Regions from separate parts of the Homo sapiens genome. Here region 1 is linked to region 2. Evidence: fine-mapped QTL for protein levels in blood plasma. A gene starts in region 2. The other region holds a variant in brackets. All regions are shown on one strand. Distances are from middle to middle. Region 1 overlaps PHYKPL (5-phosphohydroxy-L-lysine phospho-lyase). Region 2 holds the start of PHYKPL (5-phosphohydroxy-L-lysine phospho-lyase).

Region 1 (8,282 bases), 20 kb after region 2:
ATCTCGGCTCACTGCAACCTCTGCCTCCTGGGTTCAAGCAACTCTCCTGCCTCAACCTCCCCAGTAGCTGGGATTACAGGCATGCGCCACACCTGGGTAATTTTGTATTTTTAGTAGAGATGGGGTTTCTCCATGTTGGTCAGGCTGCTCTTGAACTCCTGACCTCAGGTAATCCGCCCGCCTCAGCCTCCCAAAGCACTGGGATTACAGGCATGAGCCACTGCATCCGGCATTCTTTTTTTTTTTTTTTTTTTGAAACGGGGTCTCACTCTGTCACCCAGGCTGGAGTGCAGTGACGCGATCTCAGCTCACTGCAGCCTTTACTTCCAGAGCTCAAGTGATCCCCCCACTTCAGCCTGCCAAGTACCTGGGACCACCGGTGCATGCTACCATGCCCAGCTAATTTTTTGTATTTTTGGTACAGATGGAGTTTCACCATGTTGCCCAGGCTGGTCTCAAACTCCTGAGCTCAAGCGATCGGCCCACCTCGGCCTCCCAAAATGCTGGGATTACAAGGCATGAGCCACTGCACCCGGCCTATATCTTCTTCAGTGCCTTTTAATTTTTGCCAGTCAAGTGGAGCGTAAAACAGTAGCTTGTATGGTCTTGATATGCCATTCCCTGATTTCAGATTACGTGAAGTATCTCTTCATATGTTTATTGACCATTTGTTTGCTCTTCAATGAAATGCCCATTTGTGGTCGGGTGCGGTGGCTCACGCCTGTAATCCCAGCACTTTGGGAAGCCGAGGTGGGCAGATCACGAGGTCAGGAGATCGAGACCATCCTGGCTAACACGGTGAAACCCCATCTCTACTGAAAAATAGAAAAAATTAGCCGGGCGTGGTGGCGGGCACCTGTAGTCCCAGCTACTCGGGAGGCTGAGGCAGGAGAATGGCGTGAACCCGGGAGGCGGAGCTTGCAGTGAGCCGAGATTGCGCCACTGCACTCCAGCCTGGGCGACAGAGACTCCATCTCAAAGAAAAAAAAAAAAAAATGCCTATTTGTGTCTTTTGTGTCTTTTGCCCATTTTTTTTTTATTGAGTTACCAGTGCTTAATTTTATTTGTGGGAGTTTTGTGTCTGTTTGTATGTGTGTGTGTCTGTGTGTGTGTGTATATACCAACACATACATATCTATTATGCTAATCCCTTGTCTATTGTGTATTTGTGAATATGTTCATCCAGTTTATAACCTGTCTTCACTCCCTTTACATATTTATAAAGTTTTAAATTTTAACATTGTCAACTCTTATCATTTTGTTTTATAGACGGTGTTTTTCATATATTGTTTAAGATATCTCTCCCTACTCCAAGTTATAAAATATATTCATTTATGTTTCCTCTTAAGTCTTTTAACATTTTGTTTTGACATATAGGTCCTTAATCCATCTGGAGTTTATTTTTGTACACGATGTGAATCAGGAATCCAATTACATCCTTTGTGCATGTCATACTACAGTGTTTTCCTTTACTTTTTTTTGTTTTTTGAGACGGAGTCTTGCTCTGTTTTCAGGAGTAAAATGTTGGCTCAAATTTTTTTCTTATACCTTGGGTTTTGGTAACTGGGTCCTACTAACCTTATAGAATAAATTGGGAAATATTTCTTCTTTTTCTTTTACATAAAATTGGGATGATCTGTCCTTTGAAGGTAAAAACTCACCTATAAAGCCATCTGGGCCTTGTGTTTTGTGGGAAGATATTTAACTGCTGCTTTAACTTCTTTAAAAGTTATGTTTTAGTGAGTTCAAGATGCTATAACTATAACAAAATACCATAGACTGGGTGGGTTATAAACAGATTTCTCACTGTTCTGAAGGCTGCAAATCTAAGATCAGGGCACCAGCATGGTTGGGGTTCTGGTGAGAGTCCTCTTCCGGGTTGCTGACAGCCAGCTTCTCGCTGTACCTCATATTGTCGAAAGGGTGAGCACTCCCTGGGATCTCTTTTAGAAAACCATATTCGCATTCATGAAGGCTCTATTCTTGTGACCTAATAACCTAAAGGCCCCACCTCTTAATACCATCACATTGGAGGTTAGGATTTCAACACATGAATTGGGAGAGACACAAACATTCAATTCACTGCAAGTTACATAGGGTTTTTAACGTTTTCATATTTGTTCTGCCCCTTTCCTCTCCTTCTGGGACAGTCATTTGCATGTTGGTATGCTTGTGTCCTTGGGTCTATATGACTGTTTTTCTTTTCTTTCTTTTTTTTTTTTTTTTTTTTTTGAGACGGAGTTTCGCTCTGTCACCCAGGCTGGAGTGCAGTGGCGCGATCTCGACTCACTGCAAGCTCCGCCTCCCGGGTTCATGCCATTCTCCTGCCTCAGCCTCCCGAGTAGCTGGGACTACAGGCGCCCGCTACCACGCCCGGCTAATTTTTGTATTTTTTAGTAGAGACGGGGTTTCACCGTGTTAGCCAGGATGGTCTCGATCTCCTGACCTCGTGATCCGCCCGTCTCGGCCTCCCAAAGTGCTGGGATTACAGGCGTGAGCCACCGCGCCCAGACATGACTGTTTTTCTTTATTCCTTTTTCTTTCTGGTCTTCAGACTGGACAATCTCAATTGACTTTTTTTTTTTTTTTCTGAGACGGAGTCTCGCTCTGTCGCCCAGGCTGGAGTGCAGTGGTGTGATCTCGGCTCACTGCAAGCTCTGCCTCCCGGGTTCACGCCATTCTCCTGCCTCAGCCTCCCGAGTAGCTGTGATTACAGGCGCCCGCCATGATGCCCAGCTAATCTTTTGTATTTTTAGTACAGACGGGGTTTCACCATGTTAGCCAGGATGGTCTCGATCTCCTGACCTCATGATCCACCCGCCTCAGCCTCCCAAAGTGCGGGGATTACAGGTGTGAGTCACCGCGGCCGGCTGACTTTTTTTTTTTTTTTCACTGATTCTTTCATCTGCCGGCTTAAATCTGCTGTTGCCAGGTGCAGTGGCTCACGCCTGTAATTTCCTAGCACTTTGGGAGGCTGAGGTGGGCGGATCACTTGAGGTCCCGGGTTTAAGACCAGCCTGGCCAACACAGTGAAACTCCGTCTCTACTAAAAATACAAAAATTAGCCAGATGTGGTGGCATGCACCTATAGTCCCAGCTAGTTGGGAGGCTGAAGCACCAGAATCGCCTGAACCTGGGAGGCGGCAGCTGCAGTTTGCTGAGATCGCACCACTGCACTCCATCCTGGGTGACAGCGAGACTGTCTCAAAAAAAAAAAAAAAATCTGTTGAGCCTCTCTAGTAAATGCTTCATTTCATTTATTGTGCTTATCAACTTCAAATTTTCTGATTGATTTTTAATAATTTATCTATCATTAGACTCTGTTTTGGTAAGACATCATTTTCATGCTTTGCTTTCAATTTTTTAAGTATAGTTTCCTTTAGGTCTCTTAACATATTTGGTTTTGGGGTTGTTTCTGTTTGCTTGTTTGGATACAGGGTCTCACTCTGTTGCCCAGGCTGGAGTCTTGGCTCACTGCAGCTTCAGCCTCTGGAGCTCAAGTGATCCTCCTGCCTCACCCCGCAAGCAGCTGGGAGTACACACATGTGCCACCACGCCTGGCTATTTTTATTTTTTGTAGAGATGGGGTTTCACCATGCTGCCCAGGCTGGTCTCGAACTCCTCACCTTAGGCAACTCACCCATCTTGGCCTCCCAAAGTGCTGGGATTACAGGCATGGGCCACTGCACCCAGCTAACATGTTTGTAACATCTGATTTAAAGTCTTTATCCAGTAAGGTCAGTGTCAGCTTCCTCGGGCGCAGTTTGCATTGATTGCTTTTTTTCCTCCCGTGTCTGGGCCATGCTTCTTTGCATGTTTCAGAATTTTGTTAAAAGCTGGACATTTTAAGTAACATAATGTGGCAACTGTGGAAATCATATTCTCCTCCCTCCCCATGGTGGTTCCTTTTTCTTGTTTAATGTCTTTTCTGAACTAATTATGTAAAGTTGTGTTCTTTGTCATGTGTGGCCACTATAGTCTCTGCTTGATTAGCTTAGTGGTCCTCTAACCATTAGATCTCCTTAATTGCCTGGAACCCGTAAGTCACTCAGCCAAGAGTTTATAACTGCCTTAGACTTTACTTCCTCATTCTGCAGAGGCTCAAGGTAGCCAGTGGTGAGAGCTTAGGGCTTTCTAGATCTTACCTGAGCATGCACACAGCACTGGGCATAAGCACATCCCTATGCATATGAATGGCCTTCTAGACTCCCAGGAGTACGTCACAGCCTTTCAAAGCCCCCTGTAGCCATCTCATAGTAACAGAAAGCAGATCAGTGGATGCCTGGGTCCAGTAGTAGCGGGACGGTTGCACAGGAAGTGATGAAAATGTTCTGCAACTTCACTGCGAGGGAGGTTACACAGGTACATACATTTGTCACCTCACGTTGAACTTTATACTTTAAACACAGTTTATATATAAATTATACCTCAACAAAGCTGATGTTTTTAAAGATGTAGTTTAAAAACGAAACAAAAAACGTGGTTTGCAGGAGACACCTTGCTCGTGATCCTCTAAAACACAGGTCTCCACTCAGATACCTGCAGGATGAGGACAGGGTGGGCGAGGGAAAGGAGCCAGAGCCCTCCAGGGGTGTGAAGCAGCTTTTCCTGGGTGGGGCTTGGCGTGCTGCGCTCACTCTCCCTGGAGGAGGAAGTGCCTAATCCAGTCCTCTGGGTCTGGGCCCAGGAGATGGGGCCTTAAAGCCTCTCTTGGTAAAGACTAGCCCTGTGGGAACAAACAGGACACCCTCTCCTCTGATTCTGTATCTTCTAGGGGCTCCTACTGTACTTCAGGGATACCTGACCTGAGTTGCAGTCACATTAGCTCCTGGAAAGCCAGGACAGCCCATGTTGAACCCCACTTACTACTGCTGAGGACTGTGCGCCCTAAGGGGTTTGGGGCCTCTGCTCTTGCCACTGGCCTTGGAACACGTGTGGCAGTTCTTCTGCCTCACCCTCACTCTGGGGCATGGCCCACTCTGCCAGGGCATCTGACATGTTCTTTGTCCCTGGCTCAGTTTGGGGGCAGCCCAGTGTCCTGCGCTGTGGGGCTGGCCGTCCTGAATGTCTTGGAGAAGGAGCAGCTCCAGGATCATGCCACCAGTGTAGGCAGCTTCCTGATGCAGCTCCTCGGGCAGCAAAAAATCAAACATCCCATCGTCGGGGATGTCAGGTGAGGCTCTGGGGGCAGCAGTCACCACCCACCTGCCAAGGCCCAGTGTGGTACCATTTTCTTCACCTCCTAACAACCTGGGATGGTGGGGTTATGTCCGCTCTCAAGAGGAACTGAGACACTGAGAGGTGCTATTGCCCAAAACGGCTCTCCTGGGGAGGAGAAAGCTAGGACATGACCTGATCCCTAGCTACCCCTGAGCCTCTCTCCTCTGTCCACACCAAAGATCTCTCCCAGCCCAGTTATTCCCTGAAACTATTCTCACCACCTTCTGAAGGTGCCTCCTGCACTCAGCCCCCTCAGGAGGCACAGGTAGGAGCCCAGAGGCTGAGGCCAGCACCCTGGCCCCTCAGGCCTGGCCTCCTGAGATGTCGTCACCTTCCCTTGCAGGGGTGTTGGGCTCTTCATTGGTGTGGATCTGATCAAAGATGAGGCCACAAGGACACCAGCAACTGAAGAGGCTGCCTACTTGGTATCAAGGTATTTTCTTCTTGAAACAAGTTGCTTCCTGGAGTAGGAGACACCACAGGTACCTCTTTGCAGGGCCAGTGGAAAGGAGCCTCATCTGTACCCCCAGCACTCTGGGCCACAGACTTGATTGAAAGAGGGCTGGGGCTGGCGGGTGGGGGCAGTTGTTGGGGGACAGCTGATCCTATCAGCTGAGGACAGAGATAAGTGGTGTTAGCAGTTCTGTACCCAGTGCCTGACTACAAAGGCTGCAGATGAGACACAGGCTATTCCCAGACCAGAGCAGCACCTCTGCCTAGAATGCCCAAGCTAGCAGGGCACTCAGACCCAGGAACCCCTAATGCCACCTTGGCCTGGAGAAGGGAAACACCTTCTCTATTCATACCAGGGAGCTGTGGCAGCACTAGACTCAGGGTTCCCATGCCGCACGACAGGTGGTTGGGATGGACAAGACTCCTGCTCCTAAGCTGGGTCGGGGGTGTCTCAGAACTCAGACTCCACCGGTCCCAATGCCCTGGTTTGCTTGTCCTTTCACTTGGACCCCAAGTCCTCAGGACTTCTTCTCCTTCTAGTTGAATTGTTATTCCCTTTTATCTCCATTCCCCAGGCCTACCCCTTCCCCCACGCCCACCATGGAAAGCTCTTCTGGTATTTGACGTGTCCTTATTCAAATTGTGAGACACGCGTGGTATTGATGTAAATCTCTGTGCTGTATTTGAACTTGGCCTTTCCTGGTCCCGCCTTCTCTCTGCTGTCAGTCACATCCCCAGCTTACTCCTACCCCCCTCCCAGGAGCCTCAGGGATTCGGAATGGTCAGGTGGCATGGAAGGAAACAGATCCCAAGTTCAGCCCGTGTCTCACAATACCCTGGGGGTGCTTTTCCAGTTCAGTGAGGAAATGGGTAAGTCACCTGCAGTTACCCTGCTAGGTGGCAAGAGCTAGATCTGGCCCCAGGGCCGTCTAACTCCAAAGTCCAAGCCCTGTTCTTTCTGGCGTGGCCATGGTCAGTGCCAGGAAGACTGGGACAGGAAAATGAAACCAGAAGGCACACTCCCCACCCCCAAGAAATAAAAATAACAAGGTTTACAAAAGAAGGGGAACAATGATCAAAGAATATAAACACAATCATGCAGACCCCTCATCTCAGAGATGAGGTTAGACTGTGGACTAAAAGTGATTATTAGCTACAAATGATGTTAAGATAAAGCCATCTTCCTAAGAATAATTGGACATTTTAAACTGGAATTGTAAGATAACCCGGAAGACAGGGCAGGAAGATGCCTGAAGCTGGTGAGGGGCACGTGGAGCTCATTACACCAACTGCAATGTTGGACATTCTCTATATAAGGAAACAATATACATCACGTAAACCACACAGAAAACCAGAGAATGCAGGTGACTCTTGCAGTCTGGCGTTTCCCTGTGGCCATTCATTCTTGGCTTGGACTGTGGCTCCAGGGTTAGGTGAGGCAAGGTGCCTGTTCTGTGGGGCAGCAGGCTCAGGGCCAGGTGCAGTGCACTCCAAGCAGGCTGCTGTGGGCCAGATGCACAGGACTCTGGGAGAGGTGACCAGTAAAATGACCTGGCAGGAACTGGCCCATGGAAGGCTCTGAGGACAGTGTGGCTGGAGCACTGGACATGAGGCCAAGGCCAGGCTGAGGAAGGCCTTGAAGGCCATGTGAAGGGGTGTCCTGTCCTCACAGGCTGAAGGAGAACTACGTTTTGCTGAGCACTGATGGCCCTGGGAGGAACATCCTGAAGTTTAAGCCCCCA[A/G]TGTGCTTCAGCCTGGACAATGCACGGCAGGTGGTGGCAAAGCTGGATGCCATTCTGACTGGTGAGCTTGAAGCCTGAGCTTGGCCATATCTCTAGAACTCAGCCTGAAGCCAGCAACTAGAGCCTCCTAGCATGGAACAGGGAGGGGACAAGAGTCCAAGAGCAGAGGCACATGTCCTCTGGACAGGGCAGGGAGCAAGAGAGGGTCTTTCATGGCCCAATCTGCTCCTATTCCTGCCTGTACCTAAGAGAGCTTCCTGGGCTGTCAGGAGGTGGAAGGTGAGCCACCACCCAGCCTGCCTGAGCAGGCATCAGATGTATGCAGGACAAAGCAGTACTGGGCCTGAGAAACAGGCCATAAGAACTACAGTGGGAGTTGAGACCCCATTACCGCCAGCCTAGGATGTAGAGATGGCAGGAGTTTCATTCTGTACATGAGACAGGTCACACAAGGCTGCTGGGTGGCTGAAAGATTGGTACCACTGAGGACTGACGGAACTCAAAATGAAAACTCTACCCCACATTCCCCATCACCTAGGATGGTCGTGGTCAACCCAGGGTTCCCCCTAAATCCACTTACAAGGAAATCTCATGGCTGTGTTGCCATTTACAGCTCAGTGAGACCCTAAATAGGCACAGTTGCATCTCACAGTAGAGATCACAACTGCCAGCCAAGCAACCTGTGCCCTCCTACCTCTGGGTGATCACTGCTACCCACAGGTATGCTTAATCCCAGGGCTCTGGAGCTGGGGGAGGCCCATCCCTGCTAGACACAAATTGGAAGTGGTAGGGATATGATGAATAGGAGTGTGTTTGTGGAGAGCAAAGGCTGGCCACAGAACAGGCTTAGGGATCCTGGACAGAGCC
Region 2 (8,282 bases):
CATTCCTGTGCTTTGGAACAGAATGACATGTTTTGCGCCTTGGTGTCCCTGATGAGTCAGTCTTCGTTCCTCTCCAGTTTCCCCACCCTCCAGGCTGCCTGAGGAAACCCGGCCCCTGCTTATGTCTGGCTCCTGGGTGGGCACCACAGGTGCCGCTAGATAGCCCTACCCCAGGCCCAGCCCCAACCCCCAGCAACCTGAGCCTGCCCTGCTCCAGCCAGCACAGGCTGGAGCAGGATGCCAATTCCTGGGCCATCCTTAAAACCCTCCAGGAGCCATTCCTGCCCAAGGCCTGAAAGCTCGCAGGCCCCAGGGTGAGGAGCCAGAGTGACCGTCACATCAGGCAGGAAGCCACACGGCTCTCAGCAGGACCCAGGCCAGAGTCACTGTCACATCAGACAGGAAGCCACACGGCTCTCGGCAGGACCCAGGCCAGAGTCACTGTCACATCAGGCAGGAAGCCACACGGCTCTCGGCAGGACCCAGGCCAGAGTCACTGTCACATCAGGCAGGAAGCCACACGGCTCTCGGCAGGACCCAGGCCAGAGTCAGTGTCACATCAGGCAGGAAGCCACACGGCTCTCGGCAGGACCCAGGCCAGAGTCAGTGTCACATCAGGCAGGAAGCCACACGGCTCTCGGCAGGACCCAGGCCAGAGTCAGTGTCACATCAGGCAGGAAGCCACACGGCTCTCGGCAGGACCCAGGCCAGAGTCACTGTCACATCAGACAGGAAGCCACACGGCTCTCGGCAGGACCCAGGCCAGCCTGTACATGTCTGGCACAATGCTCATCCCTTCCTAGTGCCCTCCTGTTCCTGCCCACTGCACAGCAGTCCCCACAAAGCACAGAGGGAACACACTCAGGACAAGCTCAGTGAGAGGCCGTCGTTCCCCATGACCCCATGACCCCACTACCTGGGTGGACAGAGGAGGCATTGTGCCCCTGCCTCAGTGGGGCCCAGCAGTCTCACATGGCCGCTCCCTGGCCTGCACCTCCCTACAGACCAGGGGAGGGCATGTGGGGTGTAGAGGAGCTCCCCAGGCCCCATCCCCATCACTGAAACCTTCTTCCTTTCCAGGGCCCCGACGGGCTGCCTGTGCCTGGCTGCTGGCATAAGGTACCGTGCAGGGAAGTCTCCAGGGCAGGCTTGGGAGAGGCAGGGGAGGGTGGGGGAATGGGAGGGCCCCAGAGCCTGGGTGCTGTCACTCAAACCTCTGGGTGTCTGCGGCTTCTCGCACAGTGACTGAATAGCCAGGTTTCCCATCATGACCCTGGTTTTGACTCTCCCATCTTGCATGTGAGGCGTGGGGCTGTGGTCCTGGGTGATGGTGTATAACCCATCCTGTGGGTCACATGGACTCAACTGACACCTGGACCAGGCAGGGCAAAGCCATCAGTGCCCCCTGGGATATTGTCCCAACTGGCCCACTGAGAGGGAGTGGGGGGAGGGAAGATAGGAGGAAATGGGCAGGACCGGGGAGGCCAGGCAAGGTGGCCTGGATGGGGGCGGAGCTTCTCGGGCTCCTCGTCACCTTCAGTCTCTTCCTCCTTTTCCAGTGACCCACAGGCCCAGCTCACACCTGTACAGATCCGTGTGGACATTTTTAATTTTTGTAAAAACAAAACAGTAATATATTGATCTTTTTTCATGGAATGCGCTACCTGTGGCCTTTTAACATTCAAGAGTATGCCCACCCAGCCCCAAAGCCACCGGCATGTGAAGCTGCCGGAAAGTGGACAGGCCAGACCAGGGAGATGTGTACCTGAGGGGCACCCTTGGGCCTGGGCTTTCCCAGGAAGGAGATGAAGGTAGAAGCACCTGGCTCGGGCAAGGCTAGAAAGATGCTACGTTGGGCCTTCAGTCACCTGATCAGCAGAGAGACTCTCAGCTGTGGTACTGCCCTGTAAGAACCTGCCCCCGCAAAACTCTGGAGTCCCTGGGACACACCCTATCCAAGAAGACCCAGGGGTGGAACAGCGGCTGCTGTTGCTCCTGGCCTCATCAGCCTCCAAACTCAACCACAACCAGCTGCCTCTGCAGTTGGACAAGACTTGGCCCCCGGACAAGACTCGCCCAGCACTTGCGGCTGGGCCCGGGGAGCAGTGAGTGGAAATCCCCCACGAGGGTCTAGCTCTACCACATTCAGGAGGCCTCAGGAGGCCAGCCTGCCATGAGAGCACATGTCCTCTGGCCAGGAGTAGTGGCTGAGCTCTGTGATCGCTGTGATGTGGACCCAGCTCCAGGGAGCAGAGTGTCGAGGATGGAGGGGCCCAGCCTGGACTGACTGCTACTTCCTGTCTCTGTTTCCATTATCACCCAGAGAGGGACAAGATAGGACATGGCCTGGACCAGGGAGGCAGGCCTCCCACTCAGAGTCTGGGTCTCACTGGCCCCAAGTCTCCCACCCAGAACTCTGGCCAAAAATGGCTCTCTAGGTGGGCTGTGCAGGCAAAGCAAAGCTCAGGGCTGGTTCCCAGCTGGCCTGAGCAGGGGGCCTGCCACCAGACCCACCCACGCTCTGACGAGAGGCTTTTCCACCTCCAGCAAGTGTTCCCAGCAACCAGCTCCATCCTGGCTGCTTGCCTTCCATTTCCGTGTAGATGGAGATCACTGTGTGTAATAAACCACAAGTGCGTGTCTGGGTGTGCCTGTCCTTGTGGACTGCCCCTGGGGCACCTCTGGCTGTGGTTTCATCCTGGCCACTGCTGGGTGGGGAGGGAAAAGGGGACCCTCCCTGAGTAAGAGCCATCCCAGAAACCAAAGGAGGAAGTTCAGGGTCAGGGCAAAGATGGGATTTGGAGTTCGGAAGACACAGATTCACTGCCTGGTCCTGCCACACATCAGCTGAGTCCTCTGGCAAGTCACTACCTGTCAAATTGAGCCCCTGTGTGCTCCTCTATTGCGGTTAGCAGACTGCTGCATAACAAATCTCTCCAAAACTTGTTGCCTTAAAACAATGGCGATTTTGGCCAGACACAGTGGCTCATTCTTTTAATCCCAATACTTTGGGAGGGCAAGGTGGGAGGATCACTTGAGCCCAGGAGTTCGAGACCAGGCTGGCAGCATGGTGAAACTCCATCTCTACCAAAAGTAAAGAATTAAAAAACATTAGTAGGGTGGGTTGATGTGTGCCTGTGGTCCTAGCTGCTGGGCAGGCTGAAGCGGGAGGACTGCCTGAGCCCAGAAGTTAAAGATCAGCCTGAGCAACATAGAGAAATTCCTCTCTTTAAAAAAAAAGAAAGAAAATCATTTTGATTTCTCTTGTGCAGTCTGTGGTTAATGGGCTCAGTGTGGGTGCTTCTCACTCCGACTCTCACATGGTTGCTTATGGCTATAGCAGGGACCTCAGATGGCAAATACTTATTTGTGGCCTCTCCACGTGACCCAGGCTGCCTCCCACATGGTGGCTGGATTCCAAAAGTGACTGTCCCAGGTCAGCCAGTTGGAAGCTGTGTCACCTTTTAGGGCCAAGTCTCAGAAGTCATGTGGTGTCACTTTCTGAAAGAGTGGAGGGAGGAGAGTTAGACCCCACCTCTCCACGGGAAAGTGTCAACATCATATTTCAAAGAGAAAATGCGGAATCGTAGATCTTGTTGCAGCCCTCTGAAAAAATGCAAACTGCCACCTCAGCTGTGAAACGAGAGGGCACTACTTACCACTCAGATTGTGGTTCCGTGAGGATCCAGTGCAGAGTATGCGAAGAGTATAGGGTGTGTCCCTCACCCAGAAGCACCCTCAATTCTGATTTTCATCTCTCCTCCTGACTCCAAGGCTGCTGAGCAACAGCCACAGTCCTGCAAAGTGTTCCCACTTCTGTCATCACAGCTGGTCCCTATAACAACTAAGAGAGGGACCGTCTTACAGATGACAAAACCAAGCACATCCAGGGTGGTCTAGGCAAGAAGGGCCATGGGCCGGGCGCGGTGGCTCACGCCTATAATCCCAGCACTTGGGGTGGCTGAGGCGGGCAGATTACCTGAGGTTGAGAGTTCGAGACTAGCCTGACCAACACGGAGAAACCCCGTCTCTACTAAAAATACAAAATTAGCTGGGTGGTGCATGCCTGTAATCCTGTAATCCTGTAATGCCTGTAAATTAGGTGGGTGGTGGTGCATGCCTGTAATCCCAGCTACTCGGGAGGCTGAGGCAGAAGAATCGCTTGAAACCAGGAGGTAGAGGTTGTGGTGAGCTGATGTCGCACCATTGCCCTCCAGCCTGGGCAACAAGAGCGAAACTCCGTCTCAAAAAAAAAAAAAAAAAAAAAAAGGGCCTGCAGTGATGGTGTCTCTGATGGTGGTGGTGCATTGCACTGATGGTGTCTGAGTCTCCAAGGACTGAAGCCTAGGGCAGGCCACAGTATGGGTGGTCACCCTCAGACTTCTGTGACATGGCCTTGCTAAGCAGAAGAGGCTCGGCCACACACTGGCTAAGGAGGGAGAGATATATCCAGTCCCCTCCTCTGTCTCCCTAAGGAACTGGCAATAAGTGGAAGGTCACATCGCTCAGCCAGTTGTCTGGGTCAACAGGGAAGCCAGTAGTGGGAAAAGGAAGAGAAACACAGTGGGGCTGTGATGACTGATGGAGGTCACTGGGTGTCCATGCCGCCTCTGGAGTTCCAGCATAACCTCACCATCTGCATGCTACACTTCACAGTTCCCTCCTTCCTCCATCCAGGAACCTCACTTGATCCCCTCACCAGCCCTGCGAAGCCCAGGGCTTGTGTGATAGGTGTCGATATGCCCATTTTACATAGGGGAACACTGAGGCTCAGAGAGGGTAGTCACCTGGCCAGGGATGCACAGCCAGGACATAGTGGCAGGCTTGGGACTGCACCTAGGCTCTTGGGTTTGTCCTCTAATACGTCCTTCTGAAACTTGTCTGGCAGAGCATGGAATCTGATAGGCAGCTCCATGATGCTGTGTGATTGGCAGGTAGATCCTCGTGGGGTAGAAGCCATGTGTTCCCCCCACTTCCCCAGTCTTCTGAGGGGGTCTCTCCTGCTCCTTTAGGCAGGATGGGGCATTCTTGGCCCACTGCTGCCCCCTTGCGGTCTCATACCTTGTATCCCGATGGCTGCAAACGTTTCAACTGCAAGCTTAAAAATGTAGAGTCGGCTGAGTCCTCAAAGTGCCCGGGGAGAGCACAGAGGCGGTAGAGGGTTCAATGATTTGTTCAAGGTCCCAGCCGAGACACTGGGGAGCACCCTGCTTCACAGCTGAGACTCAAGGACTGGGGGGCCTCAGGCCTCCTGCCAAGAAAGGCAGTACAGCCTCAAAGTACCCCTTTCTGGAAGAGAGAGAAGTACATTTACTGAGTCCTGCTGTGTCCCATGACAGCTAAACTAACCACAAGGATGACGATCCCTTTTTATAGATGAATGTGAAGGGGACTTACCAGGTCTCTTTCCTCCTGGTCCCTAGGAGACCACTAGGAATACATGGGATGCTTCTGGTTAGCACAATGATTGCAGGACACCTGGGCATTCAGGGGACAGGGCCAGGGATAGCAAACACCTAAAATGCATAGGACAGTCCTACCCAGTGACAAATCATCTCAACAAGAATCCCGGTGCCAACCCTGTTGAGAAACACCATGCCCTGGGTTCAAATCCTGACTCAGCCACTTCCATCCCCTACCCTCTTGGACTCCAACATTGCCTAGAGGGCCAGGCATGAAATAAAGGACAGATGAGTGCCTGGCACAGGGCCAGAGACAAGGAGTGGGCTTTTCTGAGCAGGAAGAAGGTGAGGCCTCCTGGTGTTCTGTGCCATGCTATAAGATACTCCTGGCCCAGGAAATGGCTCAACCTGGTCTGACCTCCAACTATATCACCTCTTGACCCAGGAGCAGGTGAGATGTTAGCCGGGCCCAGCTACAGCCTTCTCACCCTCTGCCTTAAAGCAGGAAAAGCCCCTGAGCCAACCTGATTCCTCTGAGCTGCACGGGGCCACAGCTGTGGCTGGAGTTTGGGCTGCAAGACAGGGCTGAAAGGCGGGGCCCAAATAGGACTCACACACACACAAATACACACACACACACACGGTCTGTGAGGTCTTGATCCTCAGAAACGAAGTACAGGCTGGGTATGGTGGCGTGCACCTGTAGTAGCAGGTACTTGAGAGGCTGAGATGGGAGGATCACATGATCCCAGGGAGGTAGAGACTGCAATGCTGCACTCCAGCCTGAACAACAGAATAAGACCCTTTCTTTAAAAAAAAAAAAAAATACAGGCCACAAGCAGTTAACCTCGCAGTTAATTTGGGAAGAATTTTTTCCAAAAATCATGTAAAATATTCAATTCAGCTTTACAGTTAAAAATAAGAAATTCCATTCTTTTAGGGAAGATGAAAAAGTCCTGTTGCATGGATGGTGGTGATGGCTGCACGACGATGTGAATGTACTTTTGCCACTGAATTGTATCCTTAAAAATGGTTAAAATGGTAAAATTTTGTTATGTATATTTTACACAATAAAGAAAAAAGAAACTCCAAATGTTCTTTAATAAATGCCTTAAGCGGCCGGGTGCGGTGGCTCACCCGGCCTGTAATCCCAGCACTCTGGGAGGCCGAGGCAGGCAGATCATCTGAGGTCAAGAGTTCAATAAATGCCTTATGCATCTTACAACTGTATTGGGAAGAGAAGAAGAAATCAGCAATGAGGGAGTGAAGCAGAGGCCTGGGAATCATGATGTGGACAGAAAGAAGGGACAATCAGGAGCCTCCCCTGCACCTGCTGCAGTCCCAGGCCCGTGTTCCAGGGTTCTTCAAGGCAGAAAGCCCCAGTGCCTCACCCCAGGAGGGGGCTTTTCTCTCATATCCCAGCCCCTTGGGAGGCTTTTTCTTCTCACTCCCTGGGCTGGGAGTCAAGAAGACCTCAGTAGGAGTCCAGCCTCTGCAGCCTTGCTGCGTGTCTGACAACAAAACCCTTTCCCTTTCTGGGCTTCAGGGTCACCGACATGTACCACAAGGAGGATTCCCAACCTCTCTTCTTGCCCAAACGCTGCATGATTCTCTCAGCGACGATACAGCTCGTCCGGTTCACCCTGCCTAGATTCTAGCAGGAACTATGGTGCCCTGAAGGTCAAGCCCATGGTGATCTCCTTGGTCAGCCCCAGAAGGGACCCTGGGCTCTCCTTCTGCTCTTCCTGCTGCCCCTTCATGGGGCTGGGAAAACCTAGGACCTGCTTCTCCCACCCTGAGGCCCCTACTGTGTACCAGGCCCGGGTAAGGTACCAGTCACATACTCGCACTTAGGCCTCACAGTTCATCCCATTTTATGCACAAGGCGACTCAAAGACTGAGTCTGGCCCAGAGAAGGCCTGCAGGAGCTCCGAGCCCCGCCTGGGCGCCGGGAGCAGGGGCGGGGTCGTCCGGGACCCTTTCCCGGAAGGGAGGCCGCAGGGGCCTGCGGGGCGGGGCCTGCGGGGCGAGGCCCGGGGCGCGTCCCGGAACCAGAGACGGGGCAGCGCTCGAGTTCCTGCGCGGGACTGCCAAGGCACGACCACGGGCCGGAAGGCTGCCAGGCCCAGTGGGCAAGCGAAGAAATGAACCACCGCAACGCGGGCGCTTCGGGGCGGGGCCGAGTGCGAACCTGAGCCCCAAATCCCGACCCAGGCAGGGGCGGGGCCCGGAGCGGGGCCTTGGAGGCCCAGCCCGCGCGGCGACGTCTCCGCGTGGCGTCACGGCACCGACTGACGGCCACCCACCATGGCCGCAGACCAGCGCCCGAAGGCCGACACGCTGGCCCTGAGGCAACGGCTCATCAGGTACCCGGGCGGGGGGCGGGCGGCGGGGGGCGCGGGGCTGCGCGGAGAGGCACGCGCACGCACGACGCACGCACGCACGCACTACGCACGCGCCTCCGGCTAGGAAGCCGCTGCTACCCATCCCGTCCGGCCGCTGCCCCGGCCCCGCTGGAGCTTCTAGGGCCCGAGGCGGGCGGCGCCGTTGGGCAGTCCCGGCGGGTGGTCTCCGGGGCCGCCTCCCCGACAGCGCCGTCTCCAGGCCGCCCAGTTCAGGAGACGGCCCCGCCCTCACCGCTGTTCGGCTGTGTCAGCCTCGCTTGGCAGCCTTTACTCCGGAGAAGACCTTCACCCTGGCGCCTGAGAGGACCTCACCCAGGGTGGCCCGTCAGCAGCACCTGGGCCTGGCTCGAGAGTGACCTGGGAGGGGGCTGAAAGGGCAGACAAGGGAGAGTCGGGGGAGTCGGTTCACAGGCAGCACACTTGACCTGTGAGGGGGCCCTCGGTGGGACGGTGGGTGAGGTCGCCTCCCACTGGA

Evidence for each region. PIP is the chance, under the fine-mapping model, that this variant and not a neighbour inherited with it causes the effect. Protein levels are from antibody-based Olink assays in UK Biobank. Linkage for the fine-mapping came from a reference panel and not from the study's own genotypes, which makes the PIPs less certain.
Region 1: its variant is fine-mapped to the plasma level of the PHYKPL protein (UK Biobank, PIP above 0.99). The variant lies in the coding sequence of PHYKPL. If it changes the protein, the assay may bind it differently, which can mimic a change of level.

What each region holds. Positions count from the first base shown.
Region 1 is chr5:178,212,167-178,220,448 of GRCh38, reverse strand. It overlaps PHYKPL (5-phosphohydroxy-L-lysine phospho-lyase), which reads left to right. Exons shown (of 13, transcript NM_153373.4): 9 at 5,019-5,173; 10 at 5,564-5,653; 11 at 7,346-7,476. Among named protein-coding and RNA genes, the nearest start is that of HNRNPAB, 12 kb to the right of the region's middle. RefSeq lists an enhancer at 7,364-7,473. The variant A/G (reference allele first, on the strand shown) is at 7,416.
Region 2 is chr5:178,231,978-178,240,259 of GRCh38, reverse strand. It overlaps PHYKPL (5-phosphohydroxy-L-lysine phospho-lyase), which reads left to right and starts at 7,458. Exons shown (of 13, transcript NM_153373.4): 1 at 7,458-7,768. The coding sequence starts at 7,710. It overlaps COL23A1 (collagen type XXIII alpha 1 chain), which reads left to right. Exons shown (of 29, transcript NM_173465.4): 28 at 1,081-1,119; 29 at 1,560-2,642. The coding sequence ends at 1,562. It overlaps LOC112267937 (a long non-coding RNA gene), which reads right to left and starts at 6,222. Exons shown (of 3, transcript XR_002956238.2): 1 at 5,062-6,222; 2 at 3,660-3,844; 3 at 1,592-3,501. RefSeq lists enhancers at 1,396-1,445, 1,451-2,124, 2,125-2,798, 5,169-5,248, 7,296-7,834 and silencers at 7,224-7,633, 7,714-8,033.